7 linked regions of the Homo sapiens genome follow. The protein of the gene in region 4 purifies or fractionates together with the protein of the main gene of each other region. This does not show direct contact. Each region holds a gene or a part of one and is shown on either strand. Other genes may lie near its edges.

Region 1 (3,500 bases), on a different chromosome or scaffold from region 4:
GGCCCTTTACGGTTCCTTTTCACCTTGCAGATGGCTCTTTCTCATCCACATCAAAATATTTTGGTGCAAAAGAAAATGCTGCACGGAGTTATTCACCTTAATATATAGGGGGTTCGTACAGATTGATAAAAACACAAAGACCCTAAAAGCAATATAGGCAAAGATCAAAGAATAAATATAATGGGCAAAATGATGAACAAATGCCCAACTCCCTTGTTTAACTCAAAGGCAGATCCATCCATCAGATCAACAGACATTAAAATAGAAACAAACATTGTATGATTCCCTTTACATGAAACTTCCAGAATAGGCACATCCACAGAGTCCAAAAACAAATGAGTGGGTGCCAGGGGCTGAAGCACGAGGGGGACTGGGGTGACAGGCTCCTTTTGGGATGATGAAAACGTTCTGGAATTAAAGGTGATAGTTGTTCAACACTGTGAATATAACTAAAAAACACTGAAAATGGTGAGAAAGGTGAATTTTATCTAAAAAAAAAAAAAAATGAAAGGCCAACAGGTGACACCGGCTAATCTATGGTGAGTGGCATTTTCTCTTTCTTTCTTTCTTTCTTTCTTTCTTTCTTTCTTTCTTTCTTTCTTTCTCTCTTTCTTTCTTTCTTCTCTTCTTTCTCTTTTTTTTTTTTTGAGACAGAGTCTCTCTGTGTTGCTCAGGCTGGAGTGCAGTGGCATGATCTCACTGAAACCTGCCTCCTGGGTTCAAGCAATTCTCCTGCCTCAGCCTCCCCAGTTTTGCCAGGTTGGCCAGGCTGGTCTCAAACTCCTGACCTCAAGTGGTCCGCCTACCTTGCCCTCCCATAGTTTGCCATTATGGCAAACTATGCAGCCATTGCAGGTGTGAGCCACGGCGCCTGGCCCAGTGAGAGGCATTTTCATGTGTGATGGAAGGATGAGTTGGTGGAAAGCAGTCTGATAGCTCACACCCTCTGACACACTGATCTCACTTCTAGGAATTGATCCTATGGAAATTGTGAGCAGGTCTGTGTGTGCAAACACAGACTTACCTACAAAGGGTTTCATTGCAATATTGCTGAAAATTCAGGGAAAAGGGGTGGGGAGAGACTTAACTCTTCAACGGTAGGGAAAAGAGTAAATACATTATGGCAAACTATGCAGCCATTAAAATGATGATTAATAAGAAATTGTTATATTATGGGAAATGTGTGATACAATGTTAACAGAAGAAAAGACAAGATTCAGAAATGTGTAAAGTATAACCCTAATTATGAAAAAGTGGGCACGTGCATACACTACCCCCTCCAACAAACTGTGTGATCCTAGACTAGCTACCAACCCCCCTGTGACTCAATTTCCTCATTTATAAAAAAAGGATAATCAGTCCTTACTTCATATGGTTGTTGAAAGATTAGATGATCTATTTGAGGATTTAGAACACTGGCAGACACAGCTGAAGGGCTCAATACATATTAACTTTTATCTGACTGAAAATGACAGATAATTTTCACTTTCTTCTTTTCAGCTTTCCTTGACTTTCTAAATTTCCAACGAGGAGGAGGTTTAACCAGAATGAAATGGTTTTGTTTTTTACATGGGAGAGAAGATTGTGGGGGTTGGGAGGCAGGAATCCAGTCTCCATCAAGCCCCACCACCCCGTCAGGATGAACCTGGGGACATGAGGCAGTGTTGCGTAACGAGCATGCCACCGGCTGGAGAGGGGTCTCTCCCGGACCATGCAGAGAGCAGCGCTTTTCTGCCCAGGCTTAACATCTGCATCTCAGCCGACTCAGATCACTGCTCAAGGGTATAGGCAAAGGCCATGGCAAAGAGAGAAGCCTGACAATGCTTCTCCTTTGGGGGTTTGCTTCTCTAATGAAAAGATACATGGTGTCTACTTCCAGCTCATTTCACAGGATTGCCTCATTCTACCCCCACTACAACAGTGGGAGGTGGGAGGTGGGCAGCACCAGGAAACCGGGGCCAACAGAGCTTGAGGGCACAGCTGGAGTCCAGCCCAGGTGTCCTCAAAGTGGCAGCTGTGGGAGGAGGGAGCAGCGGCCTCTGGAAAGTTCTCTATAGCTATTAGGTTGGTATAGAAGTACTTGCGATTTTTGCCATTACTTTTTTTTTGGAGACGGAGTCTTGGCTTTGCCACCCAGGCTGGAGTGCAGTGGCATGAGCTCAGCTCACTGCAACCTCCGCCTCCCAGGTTCAAGTGATTCTCCTGCCTCAGCCTCCCGAGTAGCTGGGATTACAGGCACCCACGACCACACCCGGCTAATTTTTTGTAGTTTAGTAGAGACGGGGTTTCACTATGTTGGCCAGGCTGGTCTCTAACTCCTGACCTCATGATCTGCCTGCCTTGGCCTCCCAAAGTTCTGGGATTACAGGCGTGAGCCACCGCATCTGGCTGCTATTACTTTCAAAGTAATACATTGAATAATACGTATGGGGGTGAGGTGGGCTCACCTTTTAAGGGAGACTTGGCCAATTTGTTTATGGTCCAAAATAACCAAGAGATGCAGCAGGCTCAGACTGAGGATCCATCCACGGATTTCAAGAGGACTAGTGCTCGCTAAGCTCTTCAACCTCAAAATCTATTCAAGCCCTTAGGAATATGGCCCCATGCTTTTTTCTTTTTGCTTTTTTTTTGCTTTTTTTTTTTTTTTTTTTTTGAGACAGGGTCTTGCTCTTTTGCCCAGGCTGGAGTGCAGTGGTACAATCTCGGCTCACTGCAACCTCCGTCTCCTGGGTTCAAGAGATTCTCCCTGCCTCAGACTCCTGAATAGCTGGGATTACAGGCGAATGCCACCACGCCCGGCTAAGTTTTGTATTGTTTAGTAGAGACGGGGTTTCACCATGTTGGCCAGGCTGGTCTCAAACTCCTGACCCCAAGTGACCCGCCCGCCTTGGCCTCCCAAAGTGGACATTGAAATGTTTTAATAGCTGCACATGGCCTGTGTTCTCTTTGTGGTCTGGGCTTGGCCCATTCTGGGCAGGAGCCTACCTAGAGAGCCGGGTGAAATTCTCAACAACCTTGGAAGAATAGCCATGTGGACATCACGGTTCTTCCAAACCATGGACAGCCCAGTGTCCCATGACACAAACTGTCAGGTTTACTGACACTGATCCCTTCTCCACCTATGGACCAGGCTGTGCTCAGCCCCCCCTGAGGGTCTGGGTCAACAGATCACAAGCCTTTGCCAGCTCCCCCTACATACAAGAAAAAGTCTCCCAAACATGAAACAAAGAAAGCGGGGAGGCAGAGCTCGGCTTTCCTGAGGCCAGGCTGGAGCATGGTGCCTTTAATCAGCCACCTCAGGTGGTGGGTGAGGCGTGGGGTGGGAGGGTCACAGTGGTTCCATTTATGATGATCCCGTGTTCACTTTTCTTTACAGAATGTTCTGGGGCCGGGTATGGTGGCTCATGCCTGTAATCCCAACACTTTGGGAGGTCAAGATGGGAGGATCACTTGAACACAGGAGCTTAAGCCCAGCCTGGGCAACATAGCAAGACCCCATC
Region 2 (3,500 bases), on a different chromosome or scaffold from region 4:
ACAAGCATTATACCTTCTGTGATTATGATTTCCTCTCCTATAATTATTTCTGTAGCACTCCACACTGATCTTTGGAAACTTGCCCCTTATTTAAAAAAAAAAAAGAAAAAAAAGAGTTTGTTACTCTATTGTATGTTACAAAAGAACTATAGACTGTGGAATGCAGTTTAAAGATGACATATGCCAACAAATGCCTTGTATTATATGGCACTGCCGTAATTCAAATTTGTTTTTATTTTGGAAATAAAAGTTCACTGTACTTTTTTTTCATTCTCATTGTTACATGATTTTTTAAAAAAAGGAAAAGAAAATGTGAAACACAATTTAGTCCTCATTATTTATTTGTAGATCCTGCAGCATCATGTTGTAATTAATTTTTTGGAAGTTTCCGTTAAATGTAATATTGCTTCTCTTGTTACCATACTGATTCTTTTCTATTTATAAATGTATTTTGATGGGCAGTAAAACAAAGTGTCTTAAAAGTTTTAAATAGAGAAAATGTGCTTTACACAGTTGCCTATAAAAAGTGCTCTATGTTATCCAAGCAATTCATACTATAAGCTTCACTCTTATTGTTGTATGCAATTTTTACTATCATGCAAATAAGCTTAGGTAAATAAAACTAATAGATCACCTTAGAAAATTATGCAATTAATGTGAAAATAATTGATGTTTGCAATGTGTCTTCCTTTGGTTTACAATCAATTTTAAAGCTACATCTGTATAAAATTTCTGTATAAAGGTGTATTTCTTTTTTATGAGTTTATGGCTATGAAAACAGCTATTTTGTTACAGCTGGCTGTTTTTATAAGTGTATCACAATTTTCTTTATGCAGAAATGTTCTGACTAGGAGTGGTTATTGACTGTAACTACACAATTAAAATTGTTTGTATCGTATGACATGGTAGGGTTTGTCTGCTTATGTGAAGTAACTAAAGGAGTCAAAGGATGGCCCTCTCATTTAGGTGCATGTTAATAACTTGTTATTTCACTGATTTTAAAAAGAGCAATTGACAAGTTACTTGAAACACTGTAAATTTAAATCACAAACACATGCTCATTTTTAAATAGGTATGAAATTTCACAATGAAAATAACCTGTTTGGTTAACATTTTGCTTAATAAGTAGAGATAGGATGGTCAAAAGACTCTCCGACAAAAACAAATCCAGTCTCTAGCAGTTATGTTGTTAGAATGGATTCATCTGTGCTTATTTCACAATACTTCATTTATAGCAATGCTTTTCCTTAAGCTAATGTATAAATATTTCTAAAGGCCATTAATAGTAACAAAATAAGTAGGGGAAAAAATGGACCTTCTGTATAAAAACCCCTTAGCTTTTTTTTTTCACAAGTTATAAGTGGAATAAGTTAATAACTGAGCTCGTAAGTGTATCTCATAACTATAAGAGCTACATGAAGAAAATAGGAATAACACACCTGGTATTTAAACACAATCTTCAAAATTCTTGCAACATTAAACATAGTAAAATGCCAGAATATAAAATGAGGTGTGCTAATGGTCACAGGATTGAGGCCAGCATTACAGTTTGGGGTGATTTTTCTTTTATTTGCTCCCTCACTTTGTTTCCTAGATGCTAGTAGGGGTATCTGGGTTGCTTGAGATACCATTTTGCAATTGCCCCTTCTCTTTCTGCCTACCATCTTCTCAGGCCCTGATGAGCTTATTGGTAGGCAACTGGGCTGCTTTAGTGTTGAACTTGTACTTTAGAAACTGAAGTGGAATCATTGAAAACTTTCAATAAAGCTTTAAAGTTCCATTTACTTTTGAAGCACAGCTAAGCTCCTCTGAAGGCAGCTGGTTTGTTGCAAACTTAAAATTGTACTGAAAAGTTGCCACTTTTTATTTAGTAAGAAAACAAACATTCTGGCTCACTAGAGTTCAGAAAAGTAATAATTTGAGCCAAAGGAATTTGAATTAAGAAAATAGAAACTAGGTTTCATGTATTTAAAAAATAGGAAATAAAATAGAAACTCAAATGCCATGAAGTTATCTTCCTCTTCCTTATATCCCCTAAGTTTGGGTTGCAAATAACTTTCCAATTCCTAATAACCTAAATTATTTTGAAATAGTGTTTTCAGTGAAATGATGAATGTTTGAATGTTTGTTTGGTAATCAACATAACAATGCTAACAAAATTCCCACTTAGATTTTTTAACTTTTAAAAGTCAGCGTGGTTTTGATAATTTGATATTTTAAATGCCCACACATACACACACACACACACACACACACACACAAGCACATGTTAATAAACTGATAGGATGGAGTGAGCAAAATTGTTTTCAGGGAAGATGGCACATTTTAGAAAAGACTTGCCCAGATGATCTTCCATATTGCTCCCCCAATGTCATTTATCGCTCATGCCAATCCTCCTCTTGTTACCTGTGGCTATGGTAAAATTCCTTTAACAAGCTTCATTGTGTCCAAGTATTTCAGAGACTTTTAAAAGCTGGGCATGACATAGCGTTTTGTGCTGTTAAGACCTTAGCAGAGTCAGGTAGTTTACGGGTAATATTCAACCTTGTGCATCTGAATCTGTCATGGATTCCCTTCACTCAGCACTTTGCCACTAATTTGTATTACACTCTGTGGCCATATAATACTTGCACATTATGCAAAAAAAAATGTTGATAGTATCTCCTTGCCACACAATATGCAGAGTTGACAACCTTTGAAAACCAAGGTAACTAATATGTATGTCCTAGTTGTGTGGCGCTTGGTAACAAAGTCTGTACATATTATGTATAAAATGTGTATTGGTTAGCATTTAGTACTAAGAAATTCTGAGTTTAAAATAAGTGATTTTTTTCAAAGTAGCGATATCTATATCTGTGTTTATCTAAAAATACTGGCTTGAATAGAAAACATTCTCAGATGATTCAAGATTGAGTAAAAATGAGAATCCCATACATTCCATTATTAAATTCTGCCCTATTCCCAATTGTTAGCATCTGGCTGATATTAAGGTCTTTGATTGTCACAATATTCTCAATAAATGAGACATTCTGAACTGCCTGGTGATATTTTCAAAAAGAGCAATTAAAATGTGTATTCCCTCTAATACAGCTGATAGAACTGTTGTGTTAAAGCAAGTTGGAAATTTGCATGATAGTGTGGAAACCAATGGAGGTCCAAAATATTAATCATATCTAAAATATCAGAAAATATCAATACTAGTCTTCTTTATGCATATTTTTGACTTTTTAAGAGGGCTTATGAATTCAATGTTTCTTCTGAGGCAATCCTTTTAATGTAAATACTAAATACTTGCATGTCTTTTGACAAAGGCTAAACTACAATCTATTAATATGCACATTTTTGATAAAATATAAAGTACCCTAATTAAAGAAATTGTGGTAGAAGGTGTATGTCCTGAATACTATACCTGTTTAACAATACCAAATGTTAAATAAAAATAGTTTGAAATTAATGTTTAAAAGATGAGCCACATTTTTAAGACTTTCTTACATTACCCT
Region 3 (3,500 bases), on a different chromosome or scaffold from region 4:
ACCCAGCACAAAAACTCATTTTTCAATGACTCATTAATCATACGACAATTTCAAAACTAATAAAAATTTAAATCGCCTACATAATAGAAATACATTTCAATTCAACCAGAGATCCAACACACTTTCGAATAAAGAGAGAAAAAATGTATTAACTGACTTAACAAAAACGCTATTTATTTAACTCACGCAGTATTGCTTAAAGAGTATCTACAAAATTCTTACCTCAATGTTTTCTTGCAAGAGACGTGGAAACCAAAAGTAAACAGACCCTCTTTAACAATGAACCACTGATAAACATAAAATATTTATAACTGGTATAACATTTCACTTAGGTGCATTTTTTGAGTGTTAACTTGCATCAGGCAATCCAATTTACCAACATTTATCAGATTTCTCCCCAGTGAGAGTTTTCACTTAACTTTTTTTTTTTTTTTTTTTTTTTTGAGATGGAGTTTCACTCTCACTCAGGCTGGAGTGCAGTGGCATGATCTCGGCTCACTGCAGCCTCCGCCTCCTGGGTTCAAGGGATTCTTCTGCCTCAGCCTCCTGAGTAGCTGAGACTACAGGCACGCATCACCACGCCCAGCTAATTTTTTTGTTTTGTTCTGTTTTAGTAGAGATGGTGTTTTACCATCTTGCCCAGGCTGGTCTTGAACTCCTGACCTCAAGTGATCCGCCCACCTTGGCCTCCCAAAGTGCTAGGACTACAGACATGAGCCACTGTGCCCAGCCCCTTAACTTCTGAAGTAATCATTAAATTTGGAAACATTCCTGTATTTTCCAAATTATTGAGGTTTCAATCCAGCATGCTTTCTTTCATTTGTAAGGTCCATCTACAGCGTGTGTTATCATGTGTCTCTGAACAGGTATCAGATAAATGAAAGCATTCCTACATTCTGTACGTTCACAGGGTTTTTCTCAGAAATCAGTTGTTTTATGTCTTCAAATTATTCCTGCATTTTTTAACTCAACATCTTTCCTATGAATGTCTTTACCTTAAAATAATAATCTTCTTCTTCATCATCTTTGCCTGCTGTACTTTATTAATCCTTCAAGGTCTAACCCATTGACAACCTAATACTCTAGAGTGTTGTTTACATATGTGCTTGCCCATTATCTTTTTCCTCTTTGCACCCACATAGAGCTTAGCTTCCTGCCTTGCATTTACGAGGGTGCTGAAATTTTAATCTACTGTTTTCTTGAAGGCTTACCATATTCATTCTCCTGGAAGTATTCCTCACCTCCAGCTCACCATGAACCTCCACCACAACTATTGCTTACACTCTCCAACATTACTCATAACACTTCACATTTTACTCTAATTATCTGGTTACCTGGTTTTCACCACTAGATCGTTAGCTCCCCGAGATTATGCACATCTGCTTTGTTCTTACTCATATAAGGGCTAGGTAAGTTTTTCTCAACATGCGGCCCCGGATCAGTACCATCATAATCACCTGGGATCTTGTTAGAAATGTCCATTTCTGAGTCCAACCTCAGACTTACTCAATCAGAAACTATGGGATGAGGCCCAGCAGTCTGTGTTTCACAGCCCTCCAGGTGATTCTGATGCACACTCCAGTTTAAGAACTACTAGCAGAAAAGAATGTCTTACATATAAGCACCCTCAATAAAAATAAGACGTGTGAATTAACTGTTTACATTTTCAACATTTAGTGTTATAATTGGCATATAATTCTCTCAAACATTAAAAATAAAAGTAAACTATCCATTATCATTTTATCAATATCTTAAATCTAACTTTTATGTTTTGAAGGATTTTTATAAATTTTTAAATAAAACTTTACTTATAAAATTATAAAACATAATTTTATTTCTTTTATAACGTTCAAAACCAAGGGAAAAAAATAGATTGTCTGGGCATGCATAGTTTTATAATTTGTTTTAAAAAATGGCAAGAGACTGATAATCACAAAATTCAAGATCAGGGTTACATCTGCAAACAGTAAATGGAGAGGATGAGAGAGTACATACCCAAGTCATTAGTAACATTTGGGGTCCTGAGTTGCATGTTGGGTTCAAAGATGTCCATTACCTCATCAAAATTAATCAATTAGTTAATTAATCATGGTCATGCATGGATCAATGGTAATAGCGTTTCATTAACTAAGGATTATTAATTAATCTAATTCTATGTCCTGAGATCCATAAAGCTTTTTAAAGAGATAAAAATAATTATAACCTATCTCAATTCTGTCCCCAGTATTACTGTTAATTACAGTGTTTAATGCTAATTGTACCTGTGTGCGGTTGAATGCCACTCTTGCAAAGACAGCTTGGGACACACTGGCCCTCTTCAGCTCATCTCTGACTTGCTGGTAGATATCTGGAGAGACTTCCACGGAAGAGTTGGTTGGCTCTGGCTTAACTGCTCTGGGGATGGGTGGATGGTTCAGGAACTGCTGGTTGATGGCTTGAGGATGCTGGTGAGCCAGGAGCCGGCTAACGGCAATCTGTTGGTTTATCAGATGGGCCATGGCTATTTGTTGCCTTACAAGTTGTGGACTAAGCTGGGGAGAAAGAAGACCAGGGCTCATGATGGGCTGTAATGCGGGCACTTGGTTTCGGATTGGAGTACTGTGGTGAATTTGGCTGTGAGGAGACTGTTCGTTGGTTTTCCCCAGGGATGCCAGCTGGTTCATATTTGGTAAATGCATTGGACGCTGGCCCAGAACACAATAGTCTGAAAGGTTTTCTCGTTCCACTCTTTCCACTGTTAAGAGATAAAAGTGATAATTAATCATTATTTTCATTGGTACAATTTATTGCTAATATATGTAGAACTGAATTATCATACTTTTGGCATGTTAATAATATAAACATTTTTTCATACAACGATGGAAGCTCCAGCATAAAAGTGATATTCTTTTCTGCTAAATGTTACAATAGATTTTTTTCATGGAACATATGAAAGAAAGTAAAATTATTTGCCACTTCAATTAGTTAAAATTCTTAAAAGTAAGCATTTCTTTAAATAGCCAAGACAGAAACCACTGACCATTCTAAATCCTCTTAGATCCCCCAAGCTCTATCATCTCCCCAATCAACCTTTGTTATAAAAGCACCAGCTGTTCCTATCTTCTGTAGTATGTAGTTAATGGTTATCAGGAAATGACAAGGATAACATCTCCTGCCAAATTAAGTGCTACCTTCTAGTAAAAAGCTCACATAAATATTATTATACAGCTATGGAAATGTTCATTTAAAAATGTCTGCCACATAGTATATCCATTTATTGACTCACTTGCTATCTTTTTTATAGAAATGTTTCTTTAAGAAATTGATATTTTAAACATTGTGCTATGCACTCAGATAAGAAAAAAAATCACAAAATTAATAACATCACCTCAACTTGCCATTAAATGAAGTTCTCCTCAGGTTATCTGCTTTATTACATTATATTGTGCTTTAATAAAGATTAAAAGAATAACTTTGAAAGGGAAAAGTAAGTATCATATATATACAAGCATAAGGCAAGT
Region 4 (4,213 bases):
ACCATGTGGTTCGTGCTTCTGGGAGGCCCTCTCCCAGAGGTCATCTTGTCTTTCCCCAGCTCCTGGAGGTCCTCTCATCCTTCCCCAGCTCCTGGGCATGTTGCCAGCCCAACCCCACCCACCCCAGATCAATGGTTGCCTCTCCACTCAGGAAACCACCTCCTGTGGTCACATAGTCCAGTCAAACTCAACCTAAAATGCTGAGAACTTTCTCTGAACTCTGTCAGTCACTCCTGCTGCAGAAGCCAATCCTGGTTTCCTGAACTCCCCTCTGCCAGCCACAGCAGGGATGGCAGGCTGTGATTTGGAAGGACAGAGGGGAGGGCATACCTGCAGGACCTCGGTCCCCTCCATCCTTTTGTTATGGGCAGATGGGGAGGCAGGCAGAAGTGGACCGCAACTTCGTCAGAATGTGGAGTCAGAGAGAATAAGAGGCGCAGCGAGAGTGGGGCCTTTCTGTCCCTGCCAGCGCCCAAGCAACCAGGGCATTTCATTGTGACTTAGAACAGTCTCTGCCTATGTGCCTGGGCCCTGTGCAGGCAATGGGGGTTCTGCTGGTCCATGAAGACCAGGTGTCAACTCAAGCCAGAAAGGGAGAGGTTAGACATCAGGAAGGACTTCCTAGCTAGAGAAGGTGAAGAGTCCAAGGAAAGAGGCGATATGTTGCTTTCTTAGAGGCCAGATGGGACTGTCTGGGGGATGGGGGGAAAGGAAGGCTTTCCCTGAGGCAACGGATGGCACATGACAGAAGGTGCATGTCACCAGTGGGCTTTCCCCCTTGTCTTTAACTTTCCTAAGCCTTCTCGCGATGAAGCCTTCTCACGGTGAAGACGGCTGTTGGTTGGAGGCAATGTGGCGTCAGTGCGTGGATGAGACAAAGCTGGGGAGCAGGGAGGGGTCCTAAGCCCCCTAATTTTTCTCTAGTTTCCCAGGACCCACTGGTCCAGAAGATTCTGGGGCTCCCTGAGCCCCTGGGAAATAAAGTCCTCTGAGAACTCCCTGGCATTCCCGGGAGAACAGGTTTCTGGCTCTGGGAGTGAGTGAGGCGCCGGGCCTGGGGGTGCAGCGTGCCTCGGCAGGCCCTGGAGCCGGGAGCTGAGCTCGCACAGGCAGCGCGGGCGGGGCGGGGCTGGGCGGGGAGCCGGGAGGACATGCGCCTCTCCCTGTGGCTCCTTCGCCTTTGAGGATCCCCAACCTGGGGCAGCCCTCACCCCGTCTGCCCCTCTCCAGGACTCAGCCTGGCTCTGTCCCTGCCTGGCTCACCCTGGACCCCTCACAGAGCCACAAGAGAAAGGGACCAGGATAGGAGGCCCTGCCCCTTCCCCCATCCACTCGGGGTGCCCTTGTACTGCCTGTGTCTTGTGGTCAGGGAATGAGCAAGATGGTAAAAGGTTCTGAGCCAAGCCCGGTGGGGACAGGACTGCAGTGCAACGCCGCCCTCGGATCCGAGGAACTAGTGTTCCTCAGTGCGGGAGGAAGAAGGCTACCGGGCAAGCAGAGCTGGACCCTGCAGCAGTAAAGACTTCAGAGAGGCTCCAGGAAGGACTTCATGATTGTGAGGAAACTGACCAGATTTTCTCCTTCAGGGATTAGGAAAACTAGGAGGGGCAGCCCTGCCCGATGTGGGCAATGACTGGCATAGGGGCAGGGGATGGATAGGATGACTTCCCAAGATGAGCCCCTCCGCCCGGGTCCCTTCCCACTGACCAGTTGTGCATTGCCACAAAGCACATCCAGACATATCCCCCATGCCTGTAGGTGCCGAGAGAAGAGGCAAACACGCCCACTTGCTAGAGTCTACTCTTCATCCAACGGGCTTCTTTGGATATTTAGGGAGGGCCTGGGGGACTCCACGGGGAATGCCAGAACCTTATCTGAGCGGGTAGTGGGTGGGGAGGAGTCGGGGGAGCTGGCAGGGGCTTCCTGCTGCTTCGGCCACTTCCCTAAGGGCCTTCACTTCCCACGCCCCCAACTCTAGGCCCCAAAGGCCTCAGGGCTCCCTGCCTGGCCCAGCTCTGCTCACCAGGACTCTGCCTTAGGGGTCTTGCGGGAGAGAAATGGAGCTGGGGATAGGAGGCGACTCTGCCCTAAGCCCAGCATCAACTCATGGCCACAGCACCTGTTTGCCACCTGTCTGCTTCGCCACAAGGTGCACCATCTCCTTTCTGCAACCCAGGCCTCTGCATGGGCCCAGGCATCTAGACCCCAGCCCAGGCTGCGTGGAGATGTTGAGCAATTCCTTGATCTGCACACACCCTTGGTGCTCCCCAGCTCCCAGAGCTGGGCTCTCCCTTCTTCACCTGGAAAACCACTACATGGAGAACTTGGCCCCCTGCCTTTCAGCTCTAGTTTTCCAGATCTAACACTTTTGAGTCCTCATTTCCTCCCAGCACAGGGTGGGTGAGCGCATCTCCAACACACAGAGACACACACAAAATCCAGCACACACCAGAATGAGACCCACACCACAGCAAGAGGGATTAAAGTTGGACAACCTAGAAAAGGAACTGGAGGGGGAGGTGGGGGAAGGGGTGCCCCTTGGCCTCCAGGCACTCACCCGAATTCTGAGTCTCCCTTGAGCTGCAGTGAGAACCTGGGTGCTCCCCGTCACTCCTGAGCCCCGTTAAAAAGGCGAACGCCCTCCCCGTGCCCCAGCCCGGCCCTGCTGGCCTCCACGGCTGACTTGGGCCGGGGCTCCTCTTACCTGCTCAGTGAAGCAGGTCGGCGTGGGGGCCCGGGTCTGGGGGGCCAGGAGCTCTGTCCGTCTGTCAGTCCGTCAGCTCGGCCGTCCTGTGTCTGTGCTGACATCAGGTGAGGGGAGGCAGCTGCCAGGTGAGCCAATAATTATGATATCAGCTTCCCCTTGCCCGGAGGGGCTGCGCCAAAACGGGGAGAAGAGAAAGGTGACTAAGAAGCTAGTTTGCTCCTTGGCTCTTGTTTGACAGGTACCGGCTCCCGTGCCCGCCCCAGCCGCACCCTGGCCCCCCAACCCCTCCCTCCTCCTGAGCTAGCCCAGGCCCCCTCCCCTGTCCCTGCCAGTGCGCACAGCCTGTGGCTTGTAGAGGAGGGGGTTGTCCCGTGGCCCCCGCCTGCACTCCAGAAGGGAGATGTCGCCCCCCCACCCACAGGTGGGGCACAGGCCTGTTGGAGCATGCACGTGTGTCAGGAGAGCCTGGCCGCCACATGTATGCTCATGGAGCCCACTCATGAGGTTCTGGGGAACAGCGCTGGGTGGCAGCCCAGGGTTCTCTGAGGCACGGCATGGACAGGTTGGGCCCTTCAAGGGCCAAGCATTAGCACAGATTTGCTGGGAACTGTCTGTCCATGGGGCCGGCCATCTGTCTGTCTCTCCACAGCTCCCGCAGCACCTCGAGGGTGTCTCCTTGTGGGTGGGGGCGTGTGCACCCACTGGAGCATGTGCTGGTGACTCCCATCTCCCTCTCCCTCAGGGGCAGATACATGCGAGTCTGTCTGCATCTCTCCCTGGGTCTGTACATCTGTCTCCTGGGTGGGCGTGTGTCTGCATGTCTTCCCCTGTGTCTGTGTCTCTGTGTCCCCGGACCCAGGCCCGTGTGTCGTCCGTGTGTTGACATGCTCATGTCTGTGCACACGTCTCTGCTGTGGGTCAGCAACCTAGTCCTGTGTGAGCATGTGGGTGTCTGTGGGGGTGGAGATGGGGGCTCCCTGGTTCTGTGTCTTCATCCCAGGCTACTCTTCATTATTTGGAGGATAGAAACAGAAACCTGAGTGGCTGTTGCCCTGGTCTCTGGCCCCTTAGAGTTCATGTTGAGGGTGAAGCCCTAGGAATTGGCTTCCCTGGTCCCAGCTGGACTCAGGCCTGGAGCCTGTCCCTGCTCCCTGACAGCTTTCTCTGCTGTTCCCCCAGACCCTGTCCTCACCTCCTTCTCTCTGCTTCCTTTTCATCTTCTTTGCCCTCCATCCCCTTGTCTCCTGTCCCTGGTCATTCTTTCCCTCCTCCATCTCCCTGACCCTTGCACTGGCCTCTAAGCCCACTTGTGTCTCTTCCTGGAGCTAAAGGCTCTAAGGACCTAGTACCAGCACTGCTGCCCAGCAAGTTCTGGGATTTGGCTTCTGGCCTGAGGGTATGGACAAGTCAGCTCTTCCCCAGTGACTATCTCATTCCAAGGAGAGAGGTAATATCAACCCTGGCCGGGGCACAGTGGTGGTCATCTGGCACAAGTGTGGAGCATGC
Region 5 (2,886 bases), on a different chromosome or scaffold from region 4:
GGTCCTGTGCTTGGGTTAACTACTGCCTTCATTCCAAGCTGTTAGCACAGTCTGATGGCCTGGAAGATTTGTCATTTTTTTTCTTCTTTGTTATTCAGACACTTTTGGAGCCCTTTAGATGGAGAATAGACGTAACCCAGACATAGTTTCCTTATCATTAAAAGATACCAGTTGTTTTTTGTGCCCTAAAATTCTTAGAAACGAGTTGCCACTGAAACATGTATCCTCAAGAGGATCTTGCTCTCATGGTCTGGTCTGCAGACCACCAGGGCATCGCCAGGGAGGTCATTGGAAATGCAGACTCCCAGGCCTGCTCAATCCAAATCTGCACCTTCAGCAGATCCGCAGGTGATCGTGTGCACAGTAAAGACTGAAAGCGTCTGCTTTAGGGTAAAGTCGTTCCTTTGAGGCTGATCTTTAATGATGTCATTTTGAATTCAGAAGTGAACACACAGCCCCACGGCTGTGCTTTCTAAACAGTAGTCTGCTCCTGTTTTAATGGAATATACACCTTTAAAAATTAGCCACAGAATTTTTCCAGCCACAACGGTAGGAGTGTATCTGGTTTTATTTAGGAAGCAATTTGCATGTGATCTGGACCGCTGGTTTGCAAACTTTTTTCTTTTTTGTTTTAAGGTACGAGGCTACCCCACGTTATTGCTTTTCCGAGGAGGGAAGAAAGTCAGTGAGCACAGTGGAGGCAGAGACCTTGACTCGTTACACCGCTTTGTCCTGAGCCAAGCGAAAGACGAACTTTAGGAACACAGTTGGAGGTCACCTCTCCTGCCCAGCTCCCGCACCCTGCGTTTAGGAGTTCAGTCCCACAGAGGCCACTGGGTTCCCAGTGGTGGCTGTTCAGAAAGCAGAACATACTAAGCGTGAGGTATCTTCTTTGTGTGTGTGTTTTCCAAGCCAACACACTCTACAGATTCTTTATTAAGTTAAGTTTCTCTAAGTAAATGTGTAACTCATGGTCACTGTGTAAACATTTTCAGTGGCGATATATCCCCTTTGACCTTCTCTTGATGAAATTTACATGGTTTCCTTTGAGACTAAAATAGCGTTGAGGGAAATGAAATTGCTGGACTATTTGTGGCTCCTGAGTTGAGTGATTTTGGTGAAAGAAAGCACATCCAAAGCATAGTTTACCTGCCCACGAGTTCTGGAAAGGTGGCCTTGTGGCAGTATTGACGTTCCTCTGATCTTAAGGTCACAGTTGACTCAATACTGTGTTGGTCCGTAGCATGGAGCAGATTGAAATGCAAAAACCCACACCTCTGGAAGATACCTTCACGGCCGCTGCTGGAGCTTCTGTTGCTGTGAATACTTCTCTCAGTGTGAGAGGTTAGCCGTGATGAAAGCAGCGTTACTTCTGACCGTGCCTGAGTAAGAGAATGCTGATGCCATAACTTTATGTGTCGATACTTGTCAAATCAGTTACTGTTCAGGGGATCCTTCTGTTTCTCACGGGGTGAAACATGTCTTTAGTTCCTCATGTTAACACGAAGCCAGAGCCCACATGAACTGTTGGATGTCTTCCTTAGAAAGGGTAGGCATGGAAAATTCCACGAGGCTCATTCTCAGTATCTCATTAACTCATTGAAAGATTCCAGTTGTATTTGTCACCTGGGGTGACAAGACCAGACAGGCTTTCCCAGGCCTGGGTATCCAGGGAGGCTCTGCAGCCCTGCTGAAGGGCCCTAACTAGAGTTCTAGAGTTTCTGATTCTGTTTCTCAGTAGTCCTTTTAGAGGCTTGCTATACTTGGTCTGCTTCAAGGAGGTCGACCTTCTAATGTATGAAGAATGGGATGCATTTGATCTCAAGACCAAAGACAGATGTCAGTGGGCTGCTCTGGCCCTGGTGTGCACGGCTGTGGCAGCTGTTGATGCCAGTGTCCTCTAACTCATGCTGTCCTTGTGATTAAACACCTCTATCTCCCTTGGGAATAAGCACATACAGGCTTAAGCTCTAAGATAGATAGGTGTTTGTCCTTTTACCATCGAGCTACTTCCCATAATAACCACTTTGCATCCAACACTCTTCACCCACCTCCCATACGCAAGGGGATGTGGATACTTGGCCCAAAGTAACTGGTGGTAGGAATCTTAGAAACAAGACCACTTATACTGTCTGTCTGAGGCAGAAGATAACAGCAGCATCTCGACCAGCCTCTGCCTTAAAGGAAATCTTTATTAATCACGTATGGTTCACAGATAATTCTTTTTTTAAAAAAACCCAACCTCCTAGAGAAGCACAACTGTCAAGAGTCTTGTACACACAACTTCAGCTTTGCATCACGAGTCTTGTATTCCAAGAAAATCAAAGTGGTACAATTTGTTTGTTTACACTATGATACTTTCTAAATAAACTCTTTTTTTTTAAAAGTCTGGTCTTTCCTTCAATGTTACAGCAAAACAGATATAAAATAGACAATAAATTATAGTTTATATTTACAAAAAAAGCTGTAAGTGCAAACAGTTGTAGATTATAAATGTATTATTTAATCAGTTTAGTATGAAATTGCCTTCCCAGTACATGATTGTGAAAAAGACATTTAGAAAATATTCTAAAATTTAATCTGAGCCTCACTTTCTACAAGGGAAATCATGATTTCCGTTCATAAACAGCATGCTCATCCCCCTAACACCATTCTTATAAGCTGGGCACCCTCATTTTATTTTCTTCGTTGGTTCTAACCCTGTGGCGTGGTATGCTGTATAGTAAAAAGGCAGAGAACCACTTTACTGAAAAGGTACTAGAGCCGGCAGTCCAGAAGTTAATGTGCTGGTCAAAGAACCGTTCTGGTAAAGAAGAGGTGAGCATTGCCTTCACGTGTTACACGGTTACACACCCCTTGTAGCCTCACCTCAGTGTAATCAGTCTA
Region 6 (3,500 bases), on a different chromosome or scaffold from region 4:
ACCCTACCTTTCCCACTGCTCAAGCTCAAAGCTCCCCATTTTCTTGCTCAGAGGCTGCCTGGATGTCTTCCGGTTAGATAAGAAGTCCCCCGACATGACCCCACCAGGAGAGGGACGTGTGCCCGTGCTTTATCCCTTCCTATCAGACGGTAAGCCCCCTGAGTGGGGAATCTGTCTCCGACTTAGACCCCAGCCCTGAACACAAGGCTCTGGGCCGACAAAGGATGACAGTGGGCGTGCAAATCTTGGCAGAGTCCCTCCATGCACTGTCAGCTCGCTCTCCATTAGAAACTGACACAGAGAGGGACCCCGTTTGCAGATAGGATGCCATATTTCAGCTCCCCAAATCCAGAATGTGCGGTCCCTCGGAGTCTCGCCGGGACAGACCACAGCACGGGACAACAGAAAAGGCAGTGAGACATTTCATGCAAAAGCAACAGAAACTGGCTGCTTACCTGAGCTCACACAGCCCTGCTGCAGCGGGTCCTGGAGCGATGTCACGGAGTGGAGGACTAAAGTAGAAAAAGGTTATAATTAAAGGAAGGAACGCGGCCCAGGGCTTAAAGCTTCCTAACTGAATGTGGCAAGGCCCGGGGAGGCTTCCCATTCCTCCTGGGGAGGGGCGGGCATGGGGACCCACGGGCCGGGGAGGCGCTGCTGTTGCAAGGCCAGGCCCCCGGGCCGGGAGCAGGTGAAAGGTTTCGCCTGTGACATCTTCCACTTTTGTACCTTTGGCTGACTTTCTTTCCTGACTCCCTGATTCAGCTACTTGACTTTTACCTGTATTTATGTATAAACAGCATTTTTTAAATTGGTAACTCATTTTCTGCTGCTTATAAAATTAGACAGGCATGATCTCTCCTAAACACTGAAGTCAGTCCCACGGCAACAGGTTGTGGAGGAAGGGGACGGTTCTGTCCCCCAGCACCAGCCCACGGTGGGGAGTGTGGTTGGCCACCTCCTGGGGCGGAGTTCCCTCCTCCCTCTCTGCATAGCCCAGGTGGGGCTGCTGTGACCAGGTCCTTGCTATGGGGGGGCAGCCCCTCTCCTGTGGCAGGACCCCCATTACCTGGCCCTTGCTGCTGGCCCTGGACGGGTAGAACACCCTGGCCTAGCTCGCCGTTCAGCCAGAGCTGCATCCGGATGAAGGGTTCTCGGCCTTTCTGCGTCAGCTTGCTCCATGGCTTCGGTCGGGACAGCATGTCGCTGACGCTGCCCTGGGACAGGCCCAGCACCTGGAGTGGCACCGAACACACAGGCCATCAGTGCCTGGCTATTAGCATGACACCACAGATGCTGCTGCAATGCACACCCACCACGCAGAGGGCGCGTCTAGGGCTGACTTCTGAGCACAGAACCACGGCCTGGTGGCGGTGACAGCTTGTGGGCAGGGAATATGCATTTAAAGATCAACGGTGGCTGAGACCCCGGCACAGGGGGACTTTCGGGTGAGCCATGGTTACAGCCACAGCTCTCAGCTCCCAGGGAGGGAAGAGGGTCTCATCCCAGGGTCTTGATCCTGCCAAGATGGCAGGGCTGTCACCCTGACACCCCGCGGAGGAGGTGTGTACAAGCACCTTGCTCTTCACTTGGTGGCACCGGGAAAGGCTAAGGTTCCAGGGACAAGATCCCTCCAGAGGTGGGGCAGTGGGTGCCGGTGGGACTGGCGAAGCTGGTGTCCTCTGCAAACGCTGAGCCAGGCCAGCATTTAGAAAGGTCTGCTTGTTCTGACCACATCCTGATCAAAGGTGGGGGCCCAGAGGTGAGCTGGTGGGACCTGGGGAGCCGGCCTGGGAGTGACATTCCGCCGCAGATGATTGCCGAGTTGCGTGTACACACCCGAGTTTTCTGACGCTCCCATATGGCCATACATATGTATAGGCACAAACACCCCCCACAGGACACAGATGCCGCCCTGGGATATTTAGGGGCTGCATCCGATCACTCTTTTGAAAAGTTCTCAAGTTCCAGAATAAAACTGCACTCACGGGCCAAACAAGTTCAATGTTATTAAGTCTCTGCTAAATTTAAGGCATGAGCACGAATGTCTATTTCAATGTTCTCAAATGGTATTTTTACAACACTGAACTAGAAATCTCAAGGGACTTGAAATACTCATCCTCATTTCTAGTCGCCCCCCTTCACCTTTTGCAAAATCAGGGCAAAGTTCGCCATCGGACACCACCGGGATTCACAGCACAGCATACGGCAAACACTGAGTGGAAGGCGGGGTGGGGAGTGCGGGGACGGCGCCATGCAGGGACCCTGGCTTGGCAGGGGAGGGGGTGGGATTTGTCCCCTGCTGATCCAGCCACGTGCTCCCTCAGGAAGGTGCCTTTTAGGGGAGAGGGGTGCTTCTCCTTCTATTCAGCACTCCGTTATTTAATCTAAAATGGTAGGGGGTTGGGAGGCCAAGGCAGGCAGATCACTTGAGGTCAGGAGACCAGCCTGGCCAACATGGTGAAACCCTGACTCGACTAAAAATAGAAAAATTAGCTGGGTGTGGTGGTGGGCACTCGTAATCCCAGCTACTCAGGAGGCTGAAGCAGGAGAATCGCTTGAACCCAGGAGGCAGAGGTTGCAGTGAGCCGAGATAGCGTCACTGCACTCTAGCATGGGCGACAGAGTGAGACGCCATCTCAAAAAATAAATAAATAAAATGATACTAGGACATGATGTTTATTTTAGATTTGGCAGGCACGGTTAACCCTCATTCTCCTGAATCTCAGTGACCAGGAAAGTGCCAAGAACAGAAAGGCCTAGAAGCTCGTCCATGCACGATTACACTTTCCTGAGCCAGGGAAGGATGATAGGGAAACACGGGCCACCCTGCTTGGGCCATCCCCAAGCTGTGTGTCCCCGGGCAGGTTGCTTGACCTCTCTGACTGAACAATATCCAAGAGTTACACAGAAAGGAACAATAATGCTCTCTGCAGCTTTTTCTAGTAAGTCCCTTTTGGCTCTCTGCGTACTGGTGGTCCCTCTGTGTGATCAGATGGGATTTTTTTTGGCCAAGGAAGCCTGCAGGGGTGCCTCTCAGCTCCCCTTGGCAGCAAAAGCTGGATGTGGACTCGGCTGCCGGTCAGCTTGGGGCAAGTAGTTAACGTCCCCAAGCCTTGGTGTCCTTCCCTGTCAATTGGGGATTTTACCATCCACTTCCCAGCGCCAAGTGAGGGGTCGAAAGGGCAGCATGCAGGTGAAAGGCTGAGCCTAGAACCTGGCTGCAGTCGGGGCTCGGCAAATGGGATCGGGGCTGCAATGTTCACCAGCCGCACCTTGGAAGTCTGGGAGCAGAGGATGCCTTACGCTCTGCTCTTGGGTGAATTGAAATGGGTGAGGGTCACAGGCTGCGGGATAGATACTTGGTCCTCAGCAAGGAGAAGAGATGGGAGAACCAAAGCCCCCAGAGCAGATCCCTTACCTTCTCCCCGAAGATTCTCTGGCAGATGCCGTTCTTGGCCAGCTTTTCCTTAACCTGCCGGGTGAGCTCGATGGTGTCC
Region 7 (3,500 bases), on a different chromosome or scaffold from region 4:
GTGGATCGGGGCTTTCCCTTGACACAGTGCTCCTCACTAGGGATGGTCTTCCCCTCCTGGGCACACTGAAATCTGGAGACTTTTTTTTATTATCAAGACTGGGGAGGAGGAGGTGCTCCTGGCATCTAGCAGGTGGAGGCCAGGGATATTGCTCAACATCCTACAGAGCACTGGATGGTCTCACACAATAGTGAATAAACAGCCCCAAATGTCAACAGTGCTGATACTGGGGAAACCCTGGTCTAGAATCTAGCAAATCCTTGCAGCCCCGAGGTTTAAGAGGAGCGCTGGGAGGTCAGGGCCCAGATCCGGGTTGGATCATCATGAGTTCACTCCTGCTGAGGGGGCAAGGACCATGGGAAAGGCAAGGAGCCTGACTGAGCAAGGGGGCCCAGATGCTGCCCCCACCTCTCCGGACCATGATAGACAAGCCCTGGCATAATACACAGACCCCCGTCCCCAGACCCAGAAAATCGAGGCGTTTGGTACTACCAGCTCCCTGCTGCTCCAGCCCCAGGTGGGCTCCTGGCTTTTGGGCCCTCTCCCTGTGAGCCCTGAGACAGACAGATAGATGTGGAGATGAGGCTGTAGCCGGGCTCCTGGGGCCCTCTGGACTCACCTGTCCGGTGGCCTGGCCCGAGCCATCCGAGCACACAAACTGCACAAACTCCTTCAGTGAGTCCTGCCCGTGGTGGTGGTGGTAGCGGATGGTCGGGTGCGTGAAATACGGGCTCGACTGCTGGATGATGGACGTGGAGGGGAAGTGCAGGGCTGATGCTGTGGCCCGGGGGCTCCCTGCATGCACGTGGGCAGGGAAAAAAGGGCGTCAGGGCCAAGGAGGCAGCCAGTGGGAGGGACAGGAGAGGAGGGGAGCTGCCGGTCAGAGGGTCCTGAGGATCCTGAGCAGGTAAGGCAGCCGCCACAGGCACAAAAGTTAAGGCGGCACAAAAAAGTCAGTCATCAGGATCCATGATGTTTTAATGCAATACAAAAATAATAATAATAATAATAATCAAATAGGCAAACTAGGGTCCAAAGGCCAGCCATTTGTTTTTGTAAATAAAGTTTGATCACAACCAGCGCTGGGAGATTAGGATGAGGCAGATGAGGCAGGGTAGGATCTTGTCTTTATTTTATTTGGCTTTTTAAAAAAGTGTTATTATTATTATTTGAGACAGGGTCTCGCTCTGTCATCCAGACTGGAGTGCAGTGGCACAAACACGGATCACGGCAAGCAATCCTCCTGGGCTCATGCAATCCTCCCACCTCAGCCCCCCAAGTAACCAGCACTACAGGTGCACGCCACCAGGCCTGGTAGATTTTTGCTTTTTTTTTTTTCTAGAGATGAGATTTTGCCATATTGTCCTGGTTAATCTCAAACTCCTGGGCTCAAGTGATCTGCCTGCCTTGGCCTCCCAAAGTGCTGGGATTACAGGCATGAGCCACTGTGCCCAGCCTAAAGAATTTTTTTTTTTGAGACTGAGTCTCGCTCTCTCACCCAGGCTGGAGTGCAGTGGTGCGATCTCAGCTCACTGCAAGCTCTGCCTCCCGGGTTCACGCCATTCTCCTGCCTCAGCCTCCCGAGTAGCTGGGACTACAGGCGCCCACCACCACGCCCGGCTAATTTTTTGTATTTTTAGTAGAGACAGGGTTTCACCGTGTTAGCCAGAATGGTCTCGATCTCCTGACCTTGTGATCCGCCCACCTCAGCCTCCCAAAGTGCTGGGATTACAGGCGTGAGACACCGCGCCCAGCCAGTATCTGTTAAATAGAGACAGGATCTCGCCCTGTCATCCAGGCTGTAGTGCAGTGGCATGATCACAGCTCGCTGCAGCCTCGAACTCCTGGCCTCAAGCAGTCTTCCTGCCTTGGCCTCCCAAAGTACAGGGATTACAAGCATGAGCCACTGTGCCCAGCCTCAACATTTTAAACCATTTTAAACAAAGACATGGCTGAGTGCTGTGGCTCATACCTGTAATCCCAGTGCTTTGGGAGGCCAAGGTGGGAGGATCACTTGATCCAGGAGTTGGAGGTCAGCCTGGGAAACATAACAAGACCCCGTCTCTACAACAAACATTTAAAAATTAGCCAGGGTGGCACACAGGAGGGATCACTTGAGTCTGGGAGTTCAAGGCTTCAGTGAGCTATAATCGTGCCACTGCATTCAGCCTGAGTAATAGAGCAGGAAACTGTCTTTGAAAAAAGAAAAAGAAAAACAAACAAAAAAACTGGTGTTTGCTTACCATACCCTTTTTTTTGCAATAGTTTGGATTTTAAAACATATTCCATTAAAATATTATTTATCTTGATGACTGAGTTTTTGATACTTGCTGACACTCTGCACCTAAGGTGAGTGCCTCACTAGCCCTGCCTTAATTCAGGCCCTGGGTGGGAGACTGGGTGGGGGACAAGAGGAGGCAGAGGGTTCCCTGGGGCTCTGGATGAAGACAAAGCCAGCATCTGCTCAGGATGGCCGTCTGACATATGCACACACATCTCCTGAGTGCGAGCTGGTGTGCACCCAGCCACCGCCACCTAGGCGGTGTTCTCATGTGCTCAGCCTCATCACTCACACACGTGTCCTCACATACGCGTCCTTGCACACGCAATTCCCAACCCAGAGCAGGCCCCAGCTCTTCCTCCTCCCGTCTGTTTCCAATCAGCTCGCTCTTGCTCTCGGTTTCATTAGGGGGCTGAGGAAACTTGGCTTCTCTCTGGAGTTCATAAAAGCTGAGGTGGAGCCGGAGGAGCCAGGCCTGCGCCCTCCTGCTGCCTGTGTAGAGGGCCTGGGCTCCCCACCCCCACCTCGCGGCCACCACACCCTGCCCCAGCACCGGCTGCCTCTGGGCTCCCAGCCAGGAGGCCCCAAGGAGGAAGCCAGGAGGTAAACCTCCTCATTTTCTGTGTCCTACATACGAGCCCAGGAGATGGCAGGCGGACATAGGGCCATATCCAGAAAAAGTCCAGGCCTCTTGCTGCCAGGTGGGTGCCCAGAGAGGGAAGAAGAAAGTGAAGGAGTGACAGGGCTGAGGTCTCAGCTCCCACAGCCTCCTGCCTGATCCTATCTCCTCAGGGCGATCTAGGTGTTCTCATCCTGAGCACCTTCTCAACTGGGACACTGAAGTCAGAGAGCAGCCCCACGGCAGTGGGCAGTTCCTTTTCCTGGGGAGCAGCCCAGGTACCACCTGTCCCCTAGACCCAGCCCTTCCTTTCTAGAAAGCGGCAGGGAGGCCCAGACAAGGTAGCTACTTGCCGCAGGAGCCTGGGCTCCTTAGGAGTACTCTTCTCCATCCAGGCCCCACATCAACCTGGGCTCATGCTGGCAAAAATCCAGAGCCTGGGCTCAGCCAGGAGCTGGGAGAGAGGAGCCGGCAGGAAGGCAGAGCAGAAGGCTGTGCCTTCCCGCTCACAGCTGGCAGGACAAAAGGAGAACTGGGCCAGAGTTGGGGAGGACTCGGGACAGGCTTGTGTTGTATGTAGCACCCATGCACGTGAGGAGT

What was found.
Region 1: the proteins of FOXN1 (region 4) and SIM2 purify together in Homo sapiens (affinity purification with mass spectrometry; one large-scale study listed by BioGRID and IntAct). This does not show direct contact.
Region 2: the proteins of FOXN1 (region 4) and SATB1 purify together in Homo sapiens (affinity purification with mass spectrometry; one large-scale study listed by BioGRID and IntAct). This does not show direct contact.
Region 3: the proteins of FOXN1 (region 4) and SATB2 purify together in Homo sapiens (affinity purification with mass spectrometry; one large-scale study listed by BioGRID and IntAct). This does not show direct contact.
Region 5: the proteins of FOXN1 (region 4) and TXNDC5 purify together in Homo sapiens (affinity purification with mass spectrometry; one large-scale study listed by BioGRID and IntAct). This does not show direct contact.
Region 6: the proteins of FOXN1 (region 4) and CUX1 purify together in Homo sapiens (affinity purification with mass spectrometry, with the first as the bait; one large-scale study listed by BioGRID). This does not show direct contact.
Region 7: the proteins of FOXN1 (region 4) and NFIX purify together in Homo sapiens (affinity purification with mass spectrometry; one large-scale study listed by BioGRID and IntAct). This does not show direct contact.

Annotation. Positions count from the first base shown.
Region 1 is NC_000021.9:36,737,115-36,740,614, reverse strand, and holds part of SIM2 (single-minded homolog 2 long isoform), read right to left. Parts: intron 1-3,500. UniProt on the Homo sapiens protein: Transcription factor that may be a master gene of CNS development in cooperation with Arnt. It may have pleiotropic effects in the tissues expressed during development.
Region 2 is NC_000003.12:18,345,340-18,348,839, reverse strand, and holds the end of SATB1 (DNA-binding protein SATB1), read left to right. Parts: 3' UTR 1-3,463; downstream 3,464-3,500. UniProt on the Homo sapiens protein: Crucial silencing factor contributing to the initiation of X inactivation mediated by Xist RNA that occurs during embryogenesis and in lymphoma.
Region 3 is NC_000002.12:199,346,440-199,349,939, forward strand, and holds part of SATB2 (DNA-binding protein SATB2), read right to left. Parts: intron 2,735-3,500; coding exon 2,262-2,734; intron 1-2,261. UniProt on the Homo sapiens protein: Binds to DNA, at nuclear matrix- or scaffold-associated regions. Thought to recognize the sugar-phosphate structure of double-stranded DNA.
Region 4 is NC_000017.11:28,504,935-28,509,147, reverse strand, and holds the start of FOXN1 (forkhead box protein N1), read right to left. Parts: upstream 2,801-4,213; 5' UTR 2,705-2,800; intron 1-2,704. UniProt on the Homo sapiens protein: Transcriptional regulator which regulates the development, differentiation, and function of thymic epithelial cells (TECs) both in the prenatal and postnatal thymus.
Region 5 is NC_000006.12:7,881,017-7,883,902, reverse strand, and holds the end of TXNDC5 (thioredoxin domain-containing protein 5 isoform 1 precursor), read left to right. Parts: intron 1-636; coding exon 637-759; 3' UTR 760-2,386; downstream 2,387-2,886. UniProt on the Homo sapiens protein: Protein disulfide isomerase of the endoplasmic reticulum lumen involved in the formation of disulfide bonds in proteins. Can reduce insulin disulfide bonds.
Region 6 is NC_000007.14:102,202,126-102,205,625, reverse strand, and holds part of CUX1 (Homeobox protein cut-like 1), read right to left. Parts: coding exon 3,422-3,500; intron 1,236-3,421; coding exon 1,070-1,235; intron 513-1,069; coding exon 456-512; intron 1-455. UniProt on the Homo sapiens protein: May be involved in intra-Golgi retrograde transport.
Region 7 is NC_000019.10:13,078,975-13,082,474, reverse strand, and holds part of NFIX (nuclear factor 1 X-type), read right to left. Parts: intron 796-3,500; coding exon 620-795; intron 1-619.